Homo sapiens: one gene and its partners. The protein of the gene in region 2 purifies or fractionates together with the protein of the main gene of each other region. This does not show direct contact. Each region holds a gene or a part of one and is shown on either strand. Other genes may lie near its edges. The genes, in order: RPP25L, IBTK and EIF4A1.

What was found.
Region 1: the proteins of IBTK (region 2) and RPP25L purify together in Homo sapiens (co-immunoprecipitation; 3 studies listed by BioGRID and IntAct, with this or other methods). This does not show direct contact.
Region 3: the proteins of IBTK (region 2) and EIF4A1 purify together in Homo sapiens (co-immunoprecipitation; 5 studies listed by BioGRID and IntAct, with this or other methods). This does not show direct contact.

What each region holds. Positions count from the first base shown.
Region 1 is NC_000009.12:34,609,566-34,616,317, forward strand, and holds RPP25L (ribonuclease P protein subunit p25-like protein), read right to left. Parts: upstream 2,533-6,752; 5' UTR 2,499-2,532; exon of another isoform or gene 2,295-2,498; intron 1,768-2,294; 5' UTR 1,732-1,767; coding exon 1,240-1,731; 3' UTR 930-1,239; downstream 1-929. Other genes in the region: DCTN3 (dynactin subunit 3), read right to left, coding at 4,217-4,306, 4,477-4,536, 5,145-5,203, 6,465-6,548. UniProt on the Homo sapiens protein: May be a component of ribonuclease P or MRP.
Region 2 is NC_000006.12:82,195,400-82,202,828, forward strand, and holds part of IBTK (inhibitor of Bruton tyrosine kinase), read right to left. Parts: intron 7,247-7,429; coding exon 7,129-7,246; intron 6,084-7,128; coding exon 6,023-6,083; intron 5,310-6,022; coding exon 5,188-5,309; intron 4,855-5,187; coding exon 4,742-4,854; intron 1,048-4,741; coding exon 899-1,047; intron 1-898. UniProt on the Homo sapiens protein: Acts as an inhibitor of BTK tyrosine kinase activity, thereby playing a role in B-cell development. Down-regulates BTK kinase activity, leading to interference with BTK-mediated calcium mobilization and NF-kappa-B-driven transcription.
Region 3 is NC_000017.11:7,568,077-7,576,253, reverse strand, and holds the start of EIF4A1 (eukaryotic initiation factor 4A-I), read right to left. Parts: upstream 3,430-8,177; 5' UTR 3,413-3,429; coding exon 3,390-3,412; intron 1,995-3,389; coding exon 1,946-1,994; intron 1,709-1,945; coding exon 1,576-1,708; intron 1,542-1,575; exon of another isoform or gene 1,407-1,541; intron 1,136-1,406; coding exon 996-1,135; intron 1-995. Other genes in the region: SENP3 (sentrin-specific protease 3), read right to left, coding at 4,771-4,881, 5,321-5,371, 5,490-5,573, 5,761-5,898. UniProt on the Homo sapiens protein: ATP-dependent RNA helicase which is a subunit of the eIF4F complex involved in cap recognition and is required for mRNA binding to ribosome.

The DNA of each region.
Region 1 (6,752 bases), on a different chromosome or scaffold from region 2:
GGGCTCAAGCGATCCTCTTGCCTCAGCCTCCCAAGTAGCTGGGACTAAAGGTGCACACCACTATGCCTAGCTAATTTTTAGATGTTTTTGTAGAGACAGGGTCTCCCTACTATGTTGCCCAGGCTGGTCTCCAACTCCTGGGATCAAGCAATCCTCCTGCCTCAGCCTCCCAAAGTGCTGGGATTACAGGCATCAGCCACTGTGCCCAACCCAAAGATATGATTCTAAGACAGGAAAAAGCATGTTTGCAAACTAGTGGAGTTGAGGATAAATGTGTATACAGACAGGTCTGGAGGTGAAGATGGAACATGAGGGAGTTCGAAAGGCCTCTGTCTCTTCAAAGCAGAGTCCAGCTCCATAGCTGAGATTGGGGCAAGGAAGCTGGAGGGAAGGAGGTGTGAGACAGTTGTTGCATTTGGGATAGGTAAGTCATTAATAACGATAATAGCAATTAACACTTAATAGCACTATGTGCCAGTGTGGTATCTAAATGTCATATATGTATATTTCCTTATGTAATCTCATAACAATCCTATGTGATAAACACTATCGTATTCCTGTTTTATGGATAAGACCACTAAGGCACAGAGCAGTAACTTGCTAATAAGTGGCAGACCAGGATTGAAACCCAGGCAGGTTGGTACCAGAGTCCATGCTCACAACCACTATACTATACTGTATGCTGCAGATGGAGAGAAATGTCTGACCTGGCAGTGTTCCTAAACCAGGCCAAAGCAGGGGCAAATAACTATCCAGGGAATTAGATATATTCAGTACTGACTGAGGCTTCTTGTAGACACTATATTCTCCCAGCACCGGCCTGAGCCTACTACTCTTCCTCTGTCTTCACCCGATCAGCCCCCCGGGGTAAGGGCGGGGACTCCCATTTCTTTAATCCCACTCCACATAGCAGGCTGAGTAGAGGCTCATCAAATAGGTAGAAACTTTATTTCCTAAATCCCTCCCTGGACCTCTTTCAGAAGGCAGTTCAAATGCACTGTAGGTAGAAGGCAGAGGAAGCCCTTATTTAGCAATGCAGAACTTGGCAGAGGCCCCACATCTGTCATTCTTCACAGCAGTCCCTTCCCACATGCTAGAGGGAAGGGGAAGCATGATAGGGAGGTCCACTTTTGTGGACTCAAACCTTGATGGGGATGTTGAGCAGTCACAACGCTTCTCAGAAAAGGCACAAGCACCCCAGACATTCAGGCCCGGAGAACAGGCTGGCTCAGCAGGTCTTCACGATCGGGTGTCTCGAGCCCTTCTTCGGGAACGAGGGCCACAGCTGGAGCTGGGCATGGAACCCAGGCCAGGGGGTGCTCCTGGGGGTTGGTAACCACACTCATTGGGGTCCAGGGGGTCCCGGCTGAGCAGCACCCACACTGCAGGCACATGGCGGCGCACTGTGAGGGGGTCTAGCCCTGTGTCAGGTGAGGCTGGGACCCAGCTGTCCTCAGTCTGAAGGAAACGTAGCTTGGTGAGCTGGTGCAGGCCTGGGACCCGCCGCTTGACAATCTCAGCGCAGCTGACAGCCTTTCCTGCAGCCCTGCCAGAACCTGAGAACACTACATGCCGAGCACTGCCGCCCTCCAACCGACCCAGAGCCAACCCCAGCAGGTTGCGAATTTTGCTGCCATCTCGGACCCGCATCTCAAGGGTATCAGGAGGTAGCTGGGGCATTGGGGAAGGCGCTGGGAGCTCTACAGAGCCAGCTTTCCGGTAGTGCTCCATCCTGCTTGCTGTCTTGTCTGTGACTCTCGCTGCCCACTGCAGGGAAGCATCAGGTAAGTGCTAAGCAATGTGCCCCAAGTCACTGTCCACCATCCCCTATCTCCATCCAGGATATGGCCCTGCTCCCCGTTCCAGACTTCCCAGAAACAGGATCATGTCCCCTTGTCCTTAGCATCTCGTGACAAGGTCCATGCCTGCCGCAGTCTGGGAAAGGGCTGTACCCCATACACCCCGTTCCTCTACAAGGGCCATAACACCCCCACCTCCAATCCTGGAGTCCAAGAGGCAGGATCACATTCCCCAAACACTGAGCTCTTTGGGAAAGTGCCAGGCCCCCTCATCCTAAACTCTCCAGGACTGGGGCTTAGCCCCCCTTATCCTGGGCTCCTTGGAACAGGGCCTGGAACCCTCACCCCAGACTAATACCAATAGAGAGCGCTCCTCACTTGGGGCTCTACAAGGACAGGGACAAGGCCCTTCGCCCCAGGCCCCCCGGGAAACAGCCAAGAACCCTTATCCAGTGCTGCCCCCAAACAGAACGGATCCCCTCTCCCAGAGATTACCAAGGTCAATCTATATCAACCCAGGTCACTCAGAAACTCGGGGGCAGAGGCTCGACTCGGAGGGCTGCTCAGGACATTCCAAGACAGCCTTGGCCGTTTCCATAGCCACGGTCTCTTCCAGGGTCTTGCCGGCCGCTGCAGCCAAGCCACAGGCGTCCCCCAACCCTACGAGCGCCCCTCTGCCCGCCCGGTTCCGGCTCTCACCGAAGCCGCCTCACGCACGATCCGGAGCCAAGATGGCGCGCGGGCCCGGAGCGCACTAAGGCCGCGGGGCCGCGCACGCCCCGAGGGGGCGGGGCGTGAGGGGCGGGGCGTGAGGGACGGGCCCCGAGGCATCTCCGCCGCGGAAACAACCCGCTGGCCAGAGCGCCCCGGACCAGTCCCAGCGGGGATGGGAACACGAGCGCAGCCTCCGCTGTTACGCCCCGGAGGGAGGCAGGACAGTTCCCTGCGGTAGAAAGGAGCGGCCGTCGGGGAAGTCCTGCGTCTGAAGGAGGGGGATCTGGCCCTTAGAAGATGGGAGGGCTGGCGTTAGCTGTTGAGCAAACGGGGAGCTGTGGGTTTCACCGTGGGTGCGAACAAAGGCTTCAGTTTGTAGTGGCTGCTGTTGCATGGGCGAGAGCCTTAGTTACCGACTTCTGAGCTTCGACCTCATCCTGTGGGCGCTGGCGGACCACGGGGGTTTTCCGGGTTTTCCAGGGGCCAGTCGAACCAGATCTTGTGCAGGGAGCCGAGGAGGGAGTGGTGGGGAAATCGGGCCACAGCCCCTGACGACACCTGCCGCGGAGTCTGGGGGCTGAGGGGGCGGGGGTGCCCACGGAGCCTAGTATGGTGCCTGGCGTATGACCGGCGCTCAATATTTGTTAAATGATTTGTTACATTAATGAACCAGAGAAATCGCGGTGGGAATGGAAAAAAGATTAAGTTGGGAGATACTAGTAGGTTCAGTGACGAGTTGGCCACTGTTTGGACGGAGAAGTAGGAAATTCCGATCTAGGGTGACTCCCAGGTTTCAGATCGGTTTGGACACGCTGAATTTGAGGTGCCGGAGAGGTCGCAAAGGCGGGGCGGCCAATGGGCCGTTGGAAAAAGGGTCTGGAGCCAGAGCACTCCCTGAGACCACAAGGGGGCAGCAAACATTTGGTGGACTACGGTGCCAATCTGTTTCTCAACATGCTTGCCCCAGCGCCCCTACTTCCCAACTTCCCCTCCCCAGGACCAAAACTTCCTGCATCCAAACCTCTTAGGCTGCCCTTCTCGGCTCGTGGCAGCAGGTAGGCTCCCAAGAGAGAAATTTAAAGGCCTTTGCACATGCTGCTCCCTTGGCTCTGAAAGTCCCTGGATATCACTTACCAGGTCCCTTCAGTCCCTTTTTTCTTCTGTGTCCACCTGATAGGACTGCCCTTTTCCTTTACTGTCTATCCTGCTAGCCCGTGCAGGGCAGGGATTAGCCCTATCTACTCCCATCATCTGACATTTGGAGGTCTCTTATTGGTAAATGTGGGATAAATGGATACATAAAGGAATATCCTATTCACATAATCAAATGAGAGCCTTCATTTTGAGAGCTCTACACCTGCCAGAAAGCCAGACCAGGATGAGTTTAGTTCCCAGTCAAACGATTAGGCAGGCTGACACCTCTGCCCCCTACCACCTCCATCCTAGACCAAGAAGCCAGCACACTCCTCCAGTCATCTCTATGGTTTATTGTCACTGAAATAAGAACACTGATTGGGGGGAGGGTGGGTGTTGCAAATTGCAAACCTCAGGTAACCTGACCTCCAACTTTAGAGCCCAGAGTACAGAGAGGTGGGCCTTGAAGCCAATAAATACAAAGCTTCCTCTGCCTTGTAACAAAGGCAGGTTGGCATAGGGCCCTGGAGCCTGACTGCCCAGGCCCACTTTGGGATGGGGAGCAGCTATCACTCCTCTGCTGGCTTCACTTGCGTGGCGGCCTCTAGCTGGCAAAGTAGCTCATCCCACTGCACGAATTGCTTGGAGAGAAGCATTGTCTGGTTGTAGGTCAAGGTGAGAATAGGAATCTGAGTGAGGAAGTTCATGGAAAGTGGGGAACAGGCAAACATAGGTGGGTAGGATAGGATGAGAGAGAGCTAGAGGTGGAACAAAAGGACAGGGCTTAGGGACAGCACCCATTAGGGTCCTAGTTGAGCAGAAAGGATACAGTCTTGTTGTATTCCTCCAGGAGAGCCTTGGACTCCTCAGTGATTTCCACACACTGGTCCTGTAGGGCCAAAGTGTAGCACAGAAAGGAACTGGGCAAAGCCCACATCTTCCACTAAACTTCCTGCCTCATCACGGACTCCCACTCCCCATGGAGCCTAAAAAAGATGACGCTTAACCCCAAAGCCAAAGGAGCAAATGGCTATGGGAGCACTTTCAGGCTCCAGGATGGGTGCCCTAACAGCAGTCCAAAGACGGATGGAAAAGGGAGTGGCCATACATTAAGTAAACATTCCCCCTAGTGTATGTCTCTTCTTCTGTCCTTATTTCTGAACTCTCTTTGAACTTTACACTAGGGCCTGGGAATAGTGAAAAAAGAGCCCCTCTACCCACAGTCAATGACATACCATCCCCAGGAATTCTTGGGTACCTCCCAGCCTCAACCTTATGGTGTCCCAATAAAGTCCTGCTCTGGAAGCAGAAAGTTTGTACATGAACCTAGGCAAGTCCCTTTACCTCCCTGGGGCATATGCAAGATAAAGGATAAACCCCAAAGTTTCTGCTGAGGTTACAACAGAAAGGCCTGAAGCTGCTTCCCCAGGTGGCATGAGTTGGGATGAGGTGCTGCGCCACCTCCATCTTCGCTTCTAGTCATCTCCCCTCCCATACCTGCTGCTGAATGTGGATCTGGGCCAAGCGCTGCAGGCGGGCAGCATGCTCAGGAACGGCTGTAAAACACAACACACACTGCTGGATGATGCTTGTGCCCTCCCCCGGGACTGCTCAATAGTCTATTAGGTCTTTGGCAGGATTAGAGTATTGAGTGGAGAAGCTAAACAAACGCCAGACTTCATCGACTGCTGCAGCTGGAGGTGGCAGTGGGGCTCCCTGCCCACTCCAGTCTTACTCCAGGACCCATAGGGGAGGGGAAGATACATGTCCCGAGGAGAAGACAAAACCTTGGGGTTCCCAGTGTTGCTCCCTACCCCCACCCCAGTGCTATAAGCAGGACCAGGTAAAGAGAGCTTTGGCTATTATAGGACCTGTCCCTTTGCTCTCAGCCCAGCGGGGGCAGGTCTGCCTGGCTTAGGGAACAGGGAGTCTGAAGATGGATGCCAGGTCCCTAAGCTGGAATCCAACACGCCAAGGCTTGGCCACCATGCTGGGCTCAAAGCTTAAGGCTGTCAGATACTCAGCGGGCAGCTGATCAGGGGTAGGGAGGGGGAGCTGGGAAAAATACCTCCACAGACAGACAAGATGGATATCTGGATTCAATTAAAGCCACTATCTGCTTGTCAAAGTCCAGGCCCAGGGACTGCTCTCAGCAGTGCAGCAGAAAGAATTCACATACATTCATGGACCTGGCAGAGACTCTGATAGTAAAATCTGGGTTCTGCAGCACCTTGAAGAAGAGATGCTTGGGGGTAGGTAGAAGGCAGAAGGAATCCCCAGAGCTGGGGACTGCTAGAGCTTAGGCTAGTGTTCTCAGGCCCAAATTGCCTGAGGTCCTAAAACTGGGCTCTCTATCCTGGTAATTTTAATTGGTGGATGTGGCAAGTACCTCAGGGTGAGGATAAAGATAAGGAACAGGCCAGGCACAGTAGCTCACGCCTGTAATCCCAGCACTCTGAGAGGCCGAGGCAGGTGGATCACATGGGGCCAGGAGTTTGAGACCAGCCTGGACAACATGGTGAAACCCCGTCTCTACTAAAAATAGCCAGGTGTGGTGGCACACACCTGTAATCCTAGCTACTTGGGAGGCAAGGTGGGAAGTTTGTTTGAACCAGGAGGCAGCGGTTGCAGTGAGTCAAGATCATGCCACTGCACTCCAGCCTGGGTGACAGAGTACGACTCTGTCCAAAAAAAAAAAAAAAAGATAAGGAACAGACCCAACCCGAATCCACACAACCTGAAACACAGGAAAGTCTTGCCCATCCATCCACCTACCTCCCCAACCAGAGTAGTGAAGCTATAACCCCAGAGAGATACCTTTGATGTGAGCACTGTCCAGCATGGGCACCAAGGCATTCACCTGCTCCAGGAGTGCAACCTGGGAAAGGATAAACTGCTCCTCTAAAGCAAAAATGGACAAGATAGTTGCAGTGAAGCAAACCTGGGCATTGCTAATCAGCCCATGTAAGGGCCTGAGGACCTGGCAAGGGAGATGGCTAGGTCCTAGAGCTTTGGACAGTGACTCTGTCCACTGCCCCCTTCTCTAGGTGCACATTTCCATCCTGCCCCCAACTCTCCTGGATGCCTCAGGTCTGACCCATCTGA
Region 2 (7,429 bases):
ACCCCATCTCTACTAAAAATATAAAAAAATTAGCTGGACGTGATGGTGCGTGCTTATAATCCCAGTTACTCTGCCGGCTTAGGTGGGAGAATCACCTAAGCCCGGGAAATCAAAGCTGCAGTGAGCTGATACTATACCACTGCACTCCAGCCTAGGCAACCAGAGTGAGAGACCCTGTCTCAAAAAAAAAAATCAAATCAATCCTTGAGGCCTAAAAGACTCTAAGAAGAAAGGGTAAACTTCTGTTGTCTTATGAATTCCTAGAAGTTCCGATACGTTTTGTGGATGTGTAGGAGTTACAGAAAAGTGACTCTATCTCTATTCAGTTACACATTTTTCTCTAATAGGTTAACAGCTATGGAATCAAATGTTAAGGAGTGTCTAAGAAATGCCCTCCCCAGAGCTGATTAGGCTAGGAATCCTGCAGCTTAATGTGCTAGATTAGGAGAAGAACTCAAATCATTTCCAAATTGTTTTGCTCCAGTTAATACCCTGGAGGAAAGAGACTGCGAACTTTCAAAGTAGGCTTATTTTCGAAATCATTTGCCTTGACAATTTTTAACTGATGTTAACTGACATTTCACAAGATAAATTTCAATAATTTAGCTACAAATATATTTTTTCAACATGTCTATAGTGTTATTATATTTTACATCAACATTATATTTTAGTTGCACAAAGACTAGAAATAACATCATAAAGGGCTCAAAACTGCCATTACAATCTCTAAAAATAGAAATGTTGTGCAAATTTAAGAAAACTAACACTATATTTGTGATTCTTATATACCAACCTGGAAACTGTTTTAAAATTAGGGCAAAAATAAGGAAATATTAAAGATAAACCATCTATAAATCTAAAATCTGAAGGTAAGGAGGTAGTGCTTCAAAAAACAAACCTCAATCTTATCTGAATGAAATCCTGTTGTGAAATCAGGGGACTGTAAATCTCTAGGACTACCCACTCCTGCATAGCTTCCTTCAGAGTCTGATGTCAACAGTTCTGGAAGAGATTCCACAGAATTGGTCTTACCAGACTTTAATAATCCTAAAACATGAAATTAAAAAAAATTAAACACATATGCATTAAACATATATGCATTACATTCCATGAACCAGAGAGCTAAAAAAGCTTTCATTTATCCAGATTTAATAACATTCAAATTATATTTATGGTATAAAAATCTTAATAATTCAAGTTAACTGGAGAAAGAAATCAGTTTAAGTGAAAAACTGAAATGGAAGAGATTCTAAAACAATAATTTTATTCATTACAATCACACACCAATTGTGTAATGAACCTGAGGAAGATAGTTCTTTGGGATCTGCTCTAAAAAGTGATTTAAAATATTTTTGTCCGCATAAGAGACAAAGGAGAAAGGGAAAATAATTAAAATCCAGACCTCTTTTCCCTTTCTCATCTGTCTCTTGGTACAGTGGTCTCCGCACCCAAGCAAGGGGGTAGCTTCATTCTATGTGGGAGGAACCCTGTGGCCTTTTTGCCTCTCACTTAGCCAGCTGACTGACCCCATAGCAGAGGCTCCCGCAGAAGACAACTGTGGCCTGTTTGAAGTGTGTTTTTCCCTGAAATCTCTGGCTATTGAGAGCTCGCTTGAAGCAAGAGGGTTGTTGTGAAATGTATATATCATTTCTTCTCTTAGGCAAGCTAAATGCCTGGCCTCATGCCACACCTGGTATCCAGGTTCAAACTTTTGCTTAGATTCACATGTCCATTTCCACACATTTCAAATTTATTAGAATCTAAATGAAGTACCAAAATAAGCTATAAAATAAAGATGTTATCTAACTTGTAACTAAAAGCTGTATAATTGATTTAAAAATAAAACCTACCATCTCTTATACATTGTTCTCTTTAAAGTAAATCACCTTAACAAGCTAAATGTTTCTTTTATTGTTATCACTACAATTTGGAAAGAACATTTAAACATTTTTTTTGCCACACAATCTTTTTGAATTTTTTTTTTTTTTTGAGACAGAGTCTTACTCTATTGCCCAGGCTGGAGTGCGGTGGCATGATCTCAGCTCACTGCAACCTCCACCTCCAGGTTCAAGTGTTTCTCCTGCCTCAGCCTTCCAAGTAGCTAGGATTACAGGCATGCACCACCATGCCCGGCTAATTTTTTTTGTATTTTTACTAGAGACAGCGTTTCACCATATTGGCCAGGCTGGTCTGGAGCTCCTGATTTTGTGGTCCGCCCGCCTTGGCCTCCCAAAGTGCTGGGATTACAGGCAGGAGCCACTGCGTCTTGCCTCTTTTTGAATATTTTTAAGGCTGGCAAATTTTCATCGAAGAGAATACATCTAATATTAGAACACTCTCAAAAGTCAGTTAGAAATAAATCCAGAAAAAAAGAGGACAATTAATGTGGCCAACAATTACTTCTGGTCAAAAACAGTTTTGCTGAATGCCGTTTGTCTAACTTTAAGATCGACACAGATGTTAAGCTTTTACGCAACTGTCTTTGATGAAATTGGCCTCATACTCAAATTTTCTTCCTTAACAGGTCTTTTTGGCCTCCAATTAAATCTGACCTTTTAGTTATCTTTGACTACAGATATCCTGGCCACAGAAAGAACAGTACACCAGGAAAATACGGACCTGGAATCAAGAGAACAAATTTTATTTCTTTTGGTCACTACTTCAAATCACTTATGTTTTTTGAGCTTCTTTCCTTAGGTTTAAAGTAAGGGACATAAATTATTTCATTACTAATGTCTCTTCTAGCTCTGAAATTCTAAGATTCTAACACATATGGTAACAATAACATTATTTAAAACAAACCAAATATCTGCTTTTCCATAAGTCATTTAGGTGACTGGAAAGTCATTACTTTCAAGACTGTCTATCCATTATTCATCCTTCCATCAATCCACCCCTGCCTCCTTCTAAACACTAACGGTAATTCATACAACACAGAGAACACAGAGTCACAGAATTTTAAATTTAGAAAAGTCCTAAGATAATAGCTTTCCCATTTACTAGGTCTCCTGATTCCTATTTTCATTGCTTCATAAATAAATTTTAGGCATATTATCTATCCTTTTTTTATCTTTATGTTATCTAAAACTATTCTTGACATTATTCCTTTGAGCTTTAGTGAACATATCAAGCACCTAATTTGAAGCATCTCAGTAAACATAAAAAAAAAATCCTTCTTCTTTGCCCTGCCTAACAAGCTTTTTTTTCCAAAGGGACACAAAACAATGTACTCTTCTATTTTTCAAAGTTGTTTGTATACAGCTGATTGACTATGAAGTACTGTTAGCAGAAACTGTACTAGGTTATGCCTTAGTGCTATAGACAAGAGTAACCTACCATTTCTGAAAGCCATACTGTAGTCTCATTATTTTATAGTCACAATTCATGTTTTATCTAAAGAAACTACTAAAACGTATATAGTTTAATCTAGATCAGATGAATCTAGAATGTGAGACAGTCTATAACACAATTGGACTGACCTTTTGGAAAAGAGAAAACAAAAAACAAAAAAGTACAGCAGTTTTATACTAGTTAGAAGAGACTAAAGAGATACTAATAAGCAAAGATAATATGAACCTTGATAGAATACTAGTTTTTTTGTTAATGTTAAAAAAAAAAGACTATAAAAACATTTGTCAACAATTAGGAAAATGTGGATATGAAGTATAATACTAATTAACACTAATTAATGTCAATTGTCTCAGGTATGATAATGGTATTGTGGTTGTGTAGAAGAGTATTCCCATCTTAAAAGATTCATATTCAAGTATTCGGGGGAAAAGTATCATGTCTACAACTTATTCCAAGTGGAACAATTTTTTTTTAAGTCTCTGTATTGTGTGTGTGTGTGTTTGTGTGTGTGTGTAACACATGGAGGAAAGAGGAGACAGTAAGCAACAAAGAGTCTGCAAGAAAATGCAAATGTGATGAGAAGTTAACAATAAATCTGAATAAAATGTACATAGGTGTTCATGGTATTTTTCTTTCATCTTTTCAGTAAGTTAAATATTCTCAAAAGAAAAAACTGGGGAAAAATATTTTAGAAAAACTACATAACCTGACCTTTACTTTCAAACAGGCTCACATAATGCCTAAATACATTTTATATTCTACTACCAGATTACAACCCCCTTATGCATATGAATGGCATCTTACTTGGAGTACTGACATATTTAAATTGAATCAACATGATAATAGTTATCTCTGTCATGTTTTGCCAACCTCTAAACCCCTATGCCACTGGAAAGAGTAGTCTTTCTAAAAACAAATCTCATCCAGTCACATCCTGTTTTAAATCATCAACAGCCACCCATAGCCTTTAGAATAAAACACAAATTCCTTAGTTTGGCATATAAGAGCCTCCAAAATCTGACCCTATCCAACCTATCTCCTATACTGAACTATATGCACAAGAAATGTGCAACTCTTTCTCTTGCTACTAAGCTTGGGAACACATTGCCCCCTTTGCTTAATATACCTATCTGCCTCCTTTTCTTAGATAACTTCATTCTTCAAGACTCAGCTCAGCATTGCTTTCCTCTAAGAGGACTTCCCTGATCTCAGATTAGTTTGAGTACCTCTTTTGTGCTCCCAGAGCAAACTTCAACTGGAGTACTTACAATAAACTATCACTTTTGGTACCTCCATAAGGACTGTTTATTTCAGTAGCCCCAGCAGATGACATATGTGAATAGAGACATAGAAGATTAGAACTGGAAATACATGCTCACTTTCCACGAACCTGTAGATGATGGACTCTGAATAATATCTGAAAGGTTATAACCTCCAGAACTATCTGAACGTTTACGTGGCTTCTTTTTAGCTTTTGTTTTTGCTTTCTTGAACATAGTTTCCCTAGGAAAAAGCAAACATAATTTCAGCAGTGTTTAGGGAGGTAACTAAGATAAATGCACTTATTTAACCCAACATGTTTAACCTGAAGGCTACTTTTTAAAATATTTACACTTTCAATGTGTTAGACCTACAGATATTAATTATGTATTTACTTTGTATTATACCAAGGTTAAGAATGAGCGTAACTACCTATTTCTTATGTCAGAATTTCTCAATTTCATCTTCCAATACCAACACAAAAGTGTCATATGTCCAAGATGAGAGTGAAGGGACACACTGGAGAAAAGAAGGAAGAAAAGGAGGAAAAGAAAAAAAAAAAAGAAAACAGCTTACGAATGATTTTGTTCCATATTTATTTCTTCTTTCAAGAAGATATCTCCATCTTCTACTTCCAAATAGCTAATATCTGGTCCATCTTGATATGGTGTAATGACTCTTCTATCCATTGCTGGAATCTGCAGAATTGAAGATATCACTTTTCAAATACAAAATCTGTGAAGTTTTTTTTTTTTTTTTTTTTTTTTTTTTGTGCACACGTGGCTCTTGCCATGTTGGCCAGGCTGTTTGGAACACCTGGCCCCAAGCAAACCTCCCATCTTGGCCTCCCAAAATGCTAGGATTACAGGCATAAGCCACCACACCCAGCCTAAAGATGTTTTTTAAATTATGTAAGATATTCCATTTTTAATATGTGGTGACATTAACTAGAACAGCCTTGAATACTCAATAACTTCCTAAATTTACAAGAGGGGGTTAAATTTTGATTCAATTCAATAAAAACTTTATTCCATAAACCTGCCAAAAAGGAAACTTGAGAAAAAGCTCCACTTTATTATTAAAGATAGATTTATTCATTTCTTAGGGATCATATGAATTCATGTTTTTGCACGGTCCTGACCTCTGGTAAATAACAAAAGACTTACTCTGAGGCTTTCAGTAACTTTCATTTATAAAGAAATTAATAAATATTAACTTTATTATTAAGTATCTTGAATTCTGATTATCATATGTATCTGTGAGATCTGTAAAGGAATCCTATATCATCAGTTTTAAAAGATCCTAATGTACTAGAAGTCATTAGGAAACTATTCCATTAATAAGTCTGATCTAATATACTGCTTAAGCTGGTAATATTATAGCCGCGAAAATCTTAAAACATAAACCTTACCATTTTCCGGTAAAACTCAGAAAGATCCTTCAAAACACCATCGCTTAAAACATCAAGAGACCTAAAATATAGGATACAAAATTCTATCTTAAGATTCAAGTGACTTGATAACTGTCAAGTTGCTTACATACGTAGATATTTCATATTGCTAGATAAGTAACAAAGTTATTTTTTAAGCATTATATATAGCAGTTGCTACAAATTCCTTTTGGAAATAGATGTGGTTGTATATTACATATTTCAAATAAACAGCAAAGCAAACATATTACACAAATATCTTGAATAAAACTCAAGCAACTCTTTTTTTTTTTCTTTTTTTGAGATGGAGTCTCACTCTGTCACCCAGGCTGGAGTGCAGTGGTGCAATCTCAGCTCACTGCAACTGCTGCCTCCTGGGTTCAAGTGATTCTCCTGCTTCACACCCTCCCAAGTGGCTGAGACTACCAGGCACACACAATCACGCTCGGCTAATTTTTGTATTTTTATTAGAGATAGGGTTTCACCATCTTGGCCAGGCCGGTCTTGAACTCCTGACCTCAGGCGATCCACCTGCCTCAGCCTCCCAAAGTGCTGGGATTACAAGCATAAGCCACCACACCCGGCCTCAAGCAACTATTATAAATAAATGTACAAAGAATCTTCTCTACTTCATAAGAGTTTCATAAAAATTAACTAAATGAATCTATGTAATGCTTTTAGAACACCGTCTAGCACATAGTTAATAGTCATTACTACTGAAGTAAAATATAAAAATAAACTAAACAATGAAGCTTTAAAATAAAAACTGACACCAGGAACTCTAATCTCAAATTTCTGTGTTCTCATATTGTCACCAATGACTTTATAGGAAGTAAAATATTTTGACCTTATATTTTTAAAAAAGTATACATTTATTTCATTTTAAAAAGATCACTGTTAAAAACATTCAAAAGTTTTCAAGAGCTCTCTAATTCTAAAATGTACATAACTTCTAAATCATCAGCATTGATCAAATTCTTTCCATCCAGGTAAACATCATTATTCACATTTAAATCACTAATAATATCTGCTATTATATATAAATATCTCCTTTTGCAACAATCTTACAACATATGCACCTCACCTACCTTGCTTCAAGTAAAGCTGCCATATTCAATCCTATAAACTGTAAACAAGACAGTTTCAACTGTTTTGCACTATACATTGCTGCAAATTCCAGTAGCATAGCAGCATTCTTCAGGGTAACTACAAAGAAAGAAAAGATTTGCAAAATTAGATAAAAGGCACATTACCACAGCAAAATAAAATACATTTATGTCTAAAGCTGTACGATTTGAACATTTGGAATAAAGAAAAAAAAGTTTCTTGCCAAAAATAAGTTAATACTGGGGCAAATATGTAACTCTTCCATCCCAATATGCCAAAGTA
Region 3 (8,177 bases), on a different chromosome or scaffold from region 2:
TCTAGATATTTAGAACCCTTAACCTTCTGAAAACTAATTTGACCAACTGCCTCATCACGCAGCAACCATTTTTTTTTTCTTTTTTTGAGACAGAGCTTTGCTCGTTGCCCAGGCTGGAGTGCAATGGCACAATCTCAGCTCACTGCAACCTCCACCTCCTGGGTTAAATTCTCCTGCCTGAGCTTCCCGAGTAGCTGGGATAAAAGGCACACGCCACCATGCCTGGCTAATTTTTGTATTTTTAGTAGAAGCGGGGTTTCACTATGTTGGCCAGGCTGGTCTCCAACTCCTGATCTCAAGAGATCTGCCTGCCTTGGCCTCCCAAAGTGTTGGGATTATACGAGTTGAGCCACCACACCCAGCCAGCAACCAGTTTTATAGAACAGGTGATGCATATCCATGTCCTATTGCACTCCTGCCATAGGACCCAAGCTACGAGGCATGTTCACTCTGAGAAAACTGAGAGCCAAGTGCCTTAGAATGGAGCTCTGCTGTAACTTCTTACATTATCCACACCCAGAATAATCACTGCCCCTGCCACAGAACATTTAAAAACATGCTCTGACATCAGTGTTGCAGCATGACCCAGGAAAAAGTCCAGCATTAGAATTGTGTGTGCCCCAGGCATGAAACAGCTCTGGCTATTAAGCAAGGGTGAAAAGGACTGTCCATCTGCTCTGACTACTGTAAGATCACCCCCACACCAAGGGATCTCTTAGCCCATAGTGAAGGTGCTTATTCAGAACACAGTCAAACTTGCCCAGCCAGCCAGGCTTCACCCAACAGCTTTCCCATTTGACTCAGGAAATGGGTGGAGGAAGCAATGGTTACGTTTGGGTAAGAAATAGCTTTTAATTAACCCAGCAGGTCTCGAGAGTGTTAGGGCACCCATGTCTTCCTCCCAAGGTGGTGATCAGAGAAGACTTCTCTGGTCCTTGGATTATACTCATCATCCCTAAATCAGCCCTGAAGGAGGGAATAGAAGCCACTCTTACCTGCTGAGCCAATTCTCGAGTGGGTGCTAGGACCAAGGCCTGGGTGGCTTTTAGATCTAATTCAATCTGCTGCAGAATCGATATGGCAAATGTGGCCGTTTTCCCAGTCCCAGATTGGGCTTGAGCAATCACATCATAACCTAAACAAATAAATTAGGAGTTGAATGTGGTAAAGAGCATACCCTTTGGGATATTCAAGTCCTAGGTTAATGAGGTCAATAAGCAACCAATGAACCAAGCATTTCATGGCTCACAAACTACCTTCCCAATCAACACAGTTACACAATGGGAACCAGATCAGAAACAAGGACCAGTTATTAACTCATCTAGTATTGCACACCAAGCTGGACTAGAAACATGGCTGTAGATGCAAATATAAGCTGGCTACAATACCACCTCTTTAAAGGAAACCTATGTGTCCAAGGCATGAACCAGGCATGGGCACGGATCAAAAGCCAAGCTGGGATGAACAAGGAGTTGCTTTGTCCCTGGCTGATATGAGATGGGCATCACCAACCAGATGCCACTCTACCCAGGTCAGGGACAGTCCACAATGTCTTCTGGGACTGAGAGGTCTCACCCTTGATACAAGGTAGAATGGCTCGCTGCTGGATGGCAGAGGGCTTCTCAAAACCATACGCGTAGATGCCACGGAGAAGGGACTCCGAGAGGTTCATGTCATCAAAGCTGTCAACAATCTCATTCCAGTTACTCTAGGGGATGCAAAGAAATTAAAGCTTGAGTCATGGAAAAGGTGGAGCTGAGCTGTAGTCTCCGAGCAAACAGAATCTGGTGCCTACTAACAAAAGCCTCAGAGCTTACAACCCTCCTCCCTTTAGGGAAACCAGCTGCTTCTAGATGATCTGGGAAATCAATCAAGAGGCCACTCTAACTCTATACGGCTGAAAGTTGTAATGGGGGAGGACAGAATTCCATTTCTCCAGTCTCACCTCGATGACGCCTTCGGGCTCCATCCCATCGGGGCCATTGTCTCTGGATCTGTTGGTTTAAAGCATAAGTTTTGTCCCCTGCCCGACCGAAGCACTCAGAAATCCTGACAGCCGGGCTCTGTCAGGAGTGGCCTGCATGATGCCATCAATCTGCTGTCCCAGATCCAACTCCCACCAGCTCCCAAAAAATACCCAAAGGAGGAGTTTCTATAAAACTGAGGCATTTGCCCCATGCAGGCAGCGGCTCAGGCCAGGCCACCCCCGACATAAGGGGGTGACCCTTTCTGAAGACAGGCCGGCAGGCGTGCCGCCGCGCTCACGGTGCCCAGAGGTGGTGCTTGCCGCCGGGTCCACGTGGGCCCGACCCAGCCGCTTAAAGCCCAAGCGCGTGCACCTCCCACCGCAGCACCAGCGCGCTGGAAGTCCCGCCCTTCACCTCCCAGATCGGAGGGTAGGACATCCCCTTCCCCCCACGTCATCCCGCCCGCGCCCTCCCCCACTCCCTCCAGCCGAAGCCCCCCCCTCGCGTTGCCCGGATGTGGGAGGCCGCGGGCGGTGGCGGCCTCGCGCACAATGAGCCCAAGCCGAGCTAGCAAAGGGGGAGATTGCACAACACTTAGAAGCGAAGCAGACTGGGGGAGGGGAACGCCTCAGGCCACCATGTGCTCGCTCCCTCGACCACCCGGCGGCGTCTCCCACCCCTCCATGAACAATCCACATCCCGCCCGCCCCCGTCGCGAAGTAGCGTCGCCCTCCCATACCTCAGGCCGCTCACCCCCGAAGGAAGGTGGACCTGCCCATCCGCAGTTTGCCAATAGCCCGGCTTGTGCGGCAAAATGGACCCGCCCGCCCGGCGCCGGGTGGGCTCCTGGTGCCTCACGCGGCCGCTCCTCGGGGTTAGGCTCAGTCCTGGCCGTCAAGAAAACCAGCACACTGAACGGCCGGTTTCTTCTCCCCGACCCGTGTTTTAGCCGCGACGAAGTGACTGGATCTAAGGACCAGGCACCCCCGCCTCTCGCGAGTGGTACCGTCAGAATGCTCCGGAACCCCGCGCGCCGTCCCTCCCCCGGCACAGGGAGGCAACCGGACCTGCCGGCTCTGGGCCACACATAGTGGCGGCCGCCTCCACCTTTCTTTCCCACGCCAGGTCGCGACCCCGTCTCGCCACTCAGCGCCGGGGCTTCGCGCATGGCACCGCCTCGGGTCGAGGCCTCGTAACAGACCTCGCACGCCTGACCCTAGCCGGGCTGTCCCTACCCTCCGCCTCGACCTGGTGGCCGCGTCGGCCGTGGGTCTTCCCCCTCGCCCCTCCAAGTCGGACCCTCCCCCCACCCGGTTCGGTTTCTCCCGCAACCCTGGTGGGCCTCTCAGCTACCCCCGGCGGGCCCGTCGGAAGGGGGCGGCAAAATAAGCAGCCACAATCTCTTGCAAATGCCTTTCTTACCGGGAATCCTGGCTCGCAGACATGATCCTTAGAAACTAGGGCGGAGTGCCCGCCTATCGACAACTTATAGAGCGCCCGACTCCGCCCCGGCCATCGCATTGGTTTGGCCGCCCCGGCCCCGCCTGCCGGCGCTCAGCAACTCGGCATGACGTTAGTTCCTAGTCGCTCCGGCCCGCAGGCACCATTGGATAACTCGAGTGCCTATCAAGGTGAAGGCCCGCCCCGCAGCCTCATTGGCTGGAGGGCCCGCCTTTCTCGCCGGTACGGAAGTGACATAGAAGAGTCAGGCCTCGAGGCCTGGCAGCCATCTTGGGGCCCTGCACTCTCACACGTGCGGAGGCGACAGTGCCTTGGTCATGTGGCTCCGTAGGCCCTATCACGCAAGGGGGGCGAGGTCTCAGCCTCCAGAGGCTTCCGGGCTCTGGGGGTTATCACTTCCCTTTACTTCTGCTCCCGGTCTCCACTGGACTCAAATGTTATTTGTTTTCCCCTGTAGCAGAGATGGATTCGACACTGCCTGGACGTGTGCCAGGGATGAAGGAATCAACAGCGATATCGTAGGGATGGGAGGATTCCCCTGGCTGGATGGTGGAGGGATGGAAGAAAACTGTAAAGGGCTTTGGGGTACTATCATGAATCCTGGTTGGTCCCCTCCCCAGTCCCTTGTGTCCAGTTCCCCAGCTTCCCTCTCGGATGCCCTTATTCTTGAGGCTTATCTACTTTCCCTCCTTCCTGCTCTCTGCTCCCATCTCGGGGATTTGTTTGGGTGAAGACAAGGTGTTGGCAGTGCCTGAGCCAGGGATGGAAAGCTGAACCCTTTAGTCTCAAGAGACTGGCTGGAAGGTCTGAGCTAAGCATATCCACTAATTTGAAGCCCCTTAAGGAAGACCACCACTTACGTATCAACAAAGGATCCTTTATTGACCAGAGCAGGACCGTGGCATTTATATATTTTTATATATATATATATATATATATATATATATATATATATATATATATATATATATATATATATATATATATAAAAGTTTGAAGATCTGGCAGGCAGTGATCCTATTGTCCGCCCACCACCCCCAGCACTGATTTCCTGCTCCCTGCACGGGGAAGGGGGAGGATGACTGCTCCACCCAGGCCACAGGGCCACACTCCCCTGCAAACAGAGGAAGAAAGGGGCTTTTCTGTAGCCACCCCCTGCACATCAGAAATCAACAAGTATTCTCTCAAAGAAAAAAAAATACAGAAATTGAAACATTTAAATATGAAAAACCAAAGGGAAGTGAGTGGGAAGAGGCAAGAGAGGAAAGGAACTGGAGTTTCTTGGGAAGGGACTCCCATGTCTCCCTTCCCATTTATGGGCTTGGGGTCTGGGGTACGAGGCTCACACAGTGAGTTTGCAGTGACACAGCTCCTTGTAGATCTGCCGACGAAGTTTGGGCATGTCCTGCTGGGTGAAGCTGAATGGCTGAGACAGGGCCAGATGCTTGCAGTACTGGGTGTTAACAAAGCAAGCCATGAGAAACCCCCCGTGTCAGGACCTGTGCTACACATTTCATATGAGATGTGTCTCCATCCTTCAGAGAACATCCCCAAAGGGAGCCAGGGTCCCACAGCCTGGGGTTCAAAAACAGCCTGACTCTAAAGCTAGTGTTCTTACTTGATAGAATGTTTTAGATGGAGAAAATACACTGAGTTGGAGGTTAGCAGGGAGCTCTATGAAGGCCAGAGGCCCAAGACTAGAGACCCAGTCCCAATGTGGGATGGAGAAGTCCAGAAGAGAACCAGTGAAGCCAGTGTTTTGGTGTTCTAAAACAGATTACTTCCTGCTCCACAACTGACTATGAGCCAAATGAGGGGATGCATAACAGCCTCCCGACCCTTTAACCCAACTGACTTCAGAGCTAGGGGAGGTGGCCCCATCATCTGCTTACCTGCAACACAAAAGCACCACAGTCACTGTCATTATTCTGCCTGGCCACATTCTAGAGAAGAGAAAGAAAGCAGGCCCTTCACATGGAGACTCCCAGGGGTAGGACTTCAATTTCTGCCTTCTACCACTGTCCCCACCAACACCCTATACCCCTCCCTCAGGAAACTCACCATTTTGAAGTAACCTTTCCAGCCCTGGTGGAAATCCAGTCGGTCTTTCTTTACCGCCTCTGCCTGTAGATACTTGGCAATATGCTATGTGGATGGGGGAAAAGAAAGTGATGCCCTAAGTTTCTCAATTGAACACAGTATGGTGGGTACAGTGCTGGCAGACACCATGCCCAGGTCGCCCCTCAAAGACCCAAAGCCCACCCTTCTTCCTGCAATGCCTTGCCACTGCACCGCCCCACATTTTGCCCATCTCTCTCCTACCCCCTCAAACCTTAGGGCAGCGGCGGTTTAGGGTACGCTGCGAGTCAAAATAGGTGATGGTGCGTCGCCTCACATCAACAGAGATGAGGGACCAATGCACCTCCAGGTGGATGGGGATTAGCAGTAGCTCCTTATTGAAGATGTCCACCTAAAGAGATAGTGCCACAGGTCAGGTACAACAAACAGAAGTCTTGCCTTTTGCCATGAAGGTTCTAGAGAGGAACAGAGACACAGGTAAGGGAACCAAGTGAAAGAACAGAAGACCCAAGGCCTAGATTGTGGGCAAGCTCAGGATCTGCATGTTTCGGTTCTTCGGGGTAAGGGAGGAAGGTCAGACAATGGAGGAGACATCAGAACGAACACTGGAGAACCCATGATGGGCAGGCGCTTTTCACACTTTAAAGGGAGAAGCACTTAGCAGCTAAGAACCCAGGCCCAGGATTCTGGAGCCTGCCAGAATTCAAATACAGCTCCTCCATTTACTGGCTTATGACAGTGGGCAACCTACTTAATAACCTTCTATACCTCAGTTTCCTTATCTGTCAGAGAGTGTAAATAGTAGTACCTACACCTCATCCATTTGATATGAGGATTAAACTAGTGACTATCCATAATACACTTAGAACAAGACACAGCACAAAGTAAACACGCAGTTAATGCTCATAACAATCCTACCGGGAAGTTCTCAACATTCAACCTAACAGATGAGGAAATTGCAGCTTGGAAAGTCGTGACTTGCACAAGGTCATGAAAGAAAGAAATGGCAGAAGTGGGACTCAAACTCAGTATGAAGAAGGCCAACATGTTTTTCACTGTACGTCACCACCCTTCCCTCTACTGCAAGAAGATCCCTGAGGGTGTAAGCTCTTGATTTTGAGGACTGAAATTAAGGAATGCCGGAGCCAATCATCCTGCCTAGCTGTAGAAATTTCCTGGCCTTTGAATGGGAGGGCAGGGAAACCAGAAGAGAAAAGAACTCTTCATTTTCCTCCCCCAACCTGTTCCTCTCCCACTTTTCCCGTTACATAGGCCAAAAACCTAGGCATCATCCTCCATTTCTTTTTCTTCATTTCCCACATCCAACCTGCGGAGGAAAAAACAAATCTTTTTTTTTTTTTTGAGACGGAGTCTTGCTCTGTTGCCCAGACTGGAGTGCAGTGGCGTGATCTTGCCTCACTGCAAGCTCCACCTCCTGGGTTCATGCCATTCTCCTGCCTCAGCCTCCCAAGTAGCTTGGACTACAGACACGTGCCACCTCGCCCGGCTAATTTTTTGTATTTTTAGTAGAGACAGGGTTTCACTGTGTTAGCCAGGATGGTCTTGATCTCCTGACCTGGTGATCCGCCCGCCTCAGCCTCCCAAAGGGCTGGGATTACAGGCGTGAGCCACCGCGCCCGGCAAAAAAACAAATCTTCTTTCCTACTATACTCTCACAACACAAAATACTTCTGTAACCTGTGGTCACCAAGAAGTGTTTGTGGGGCTTTCTCTCCACCAACAACCAAGCAAGCAATTTTGCGGTGGACACAGCTGGGTATCCCCCAATTCAATTCCAACACTATCTACCTGGAGATAATGTGTCACAGGTTTAGGGCTCAGTCTCACAAGGCTGCCCCCAATTCTGATGCCAGTCCTAAGCCCCAGGTTGTTTTATCTGTGTTTCTCACCAACTGGTTAGATCAGCGTTCCCATGACCCCCTCCTTGAATTTGATTAATTTGCTAGAGCAGCTCACAGAACTCATGGAAACACATTTACCAGTTTATTAACAAAGGGTAGTACAAAGAGTACAGATGAAAAGATGCACAGGGAAAGGTACCGGGAAGAGGCCTGGAGACCATCCTGTGGGAGCCTCCATGCCTTCAGCTATCTAGAATGTCTCCAAACTCCTCCTCTCGGGTTTTTTTTTCTTTTTTGAGACAGAGTTTCACTCTGTCACCCAGGGTGGAGTGCAGTGGCACAATCTCGGCTCACTGCAACCTCTGCCTCCCGGGTTCAAGCGATTCTCCTGCCTCAGCCTCCCGGGGACTACAGGCGCACGCCACCACGCCCAGCTAATTTTCATATTTTTAGTAGAGACAGGGTTTCGCCAGGTCGGCCAGGCTGGTCTCAATCTCTTGACCTTGCGATCCATCTGCCTCAGCCTCCCAAAGTGCCGGGAGTACAGGCGTGAGCCGCCGCACCCGGCCCCTTTCCGGTTTTTAGAGGCTTCACTACTAGGCATGACTGATTAAATCACTGATCCTCAGTGATTGCCTTAACCTTTGGCCCCATTCCCCTCCCAGGAAGTTGGTGGGGGTGAGGCTGAAAGTTCCAACCCTCTAATCATGAAGCCACCTAGAGGGGCTAGCCATGAATCAACTCATCAGCACACAAAAACACACATCACTGGAGATTCCAAGGATTTTAGAAGTTGAATGCCAGGAGC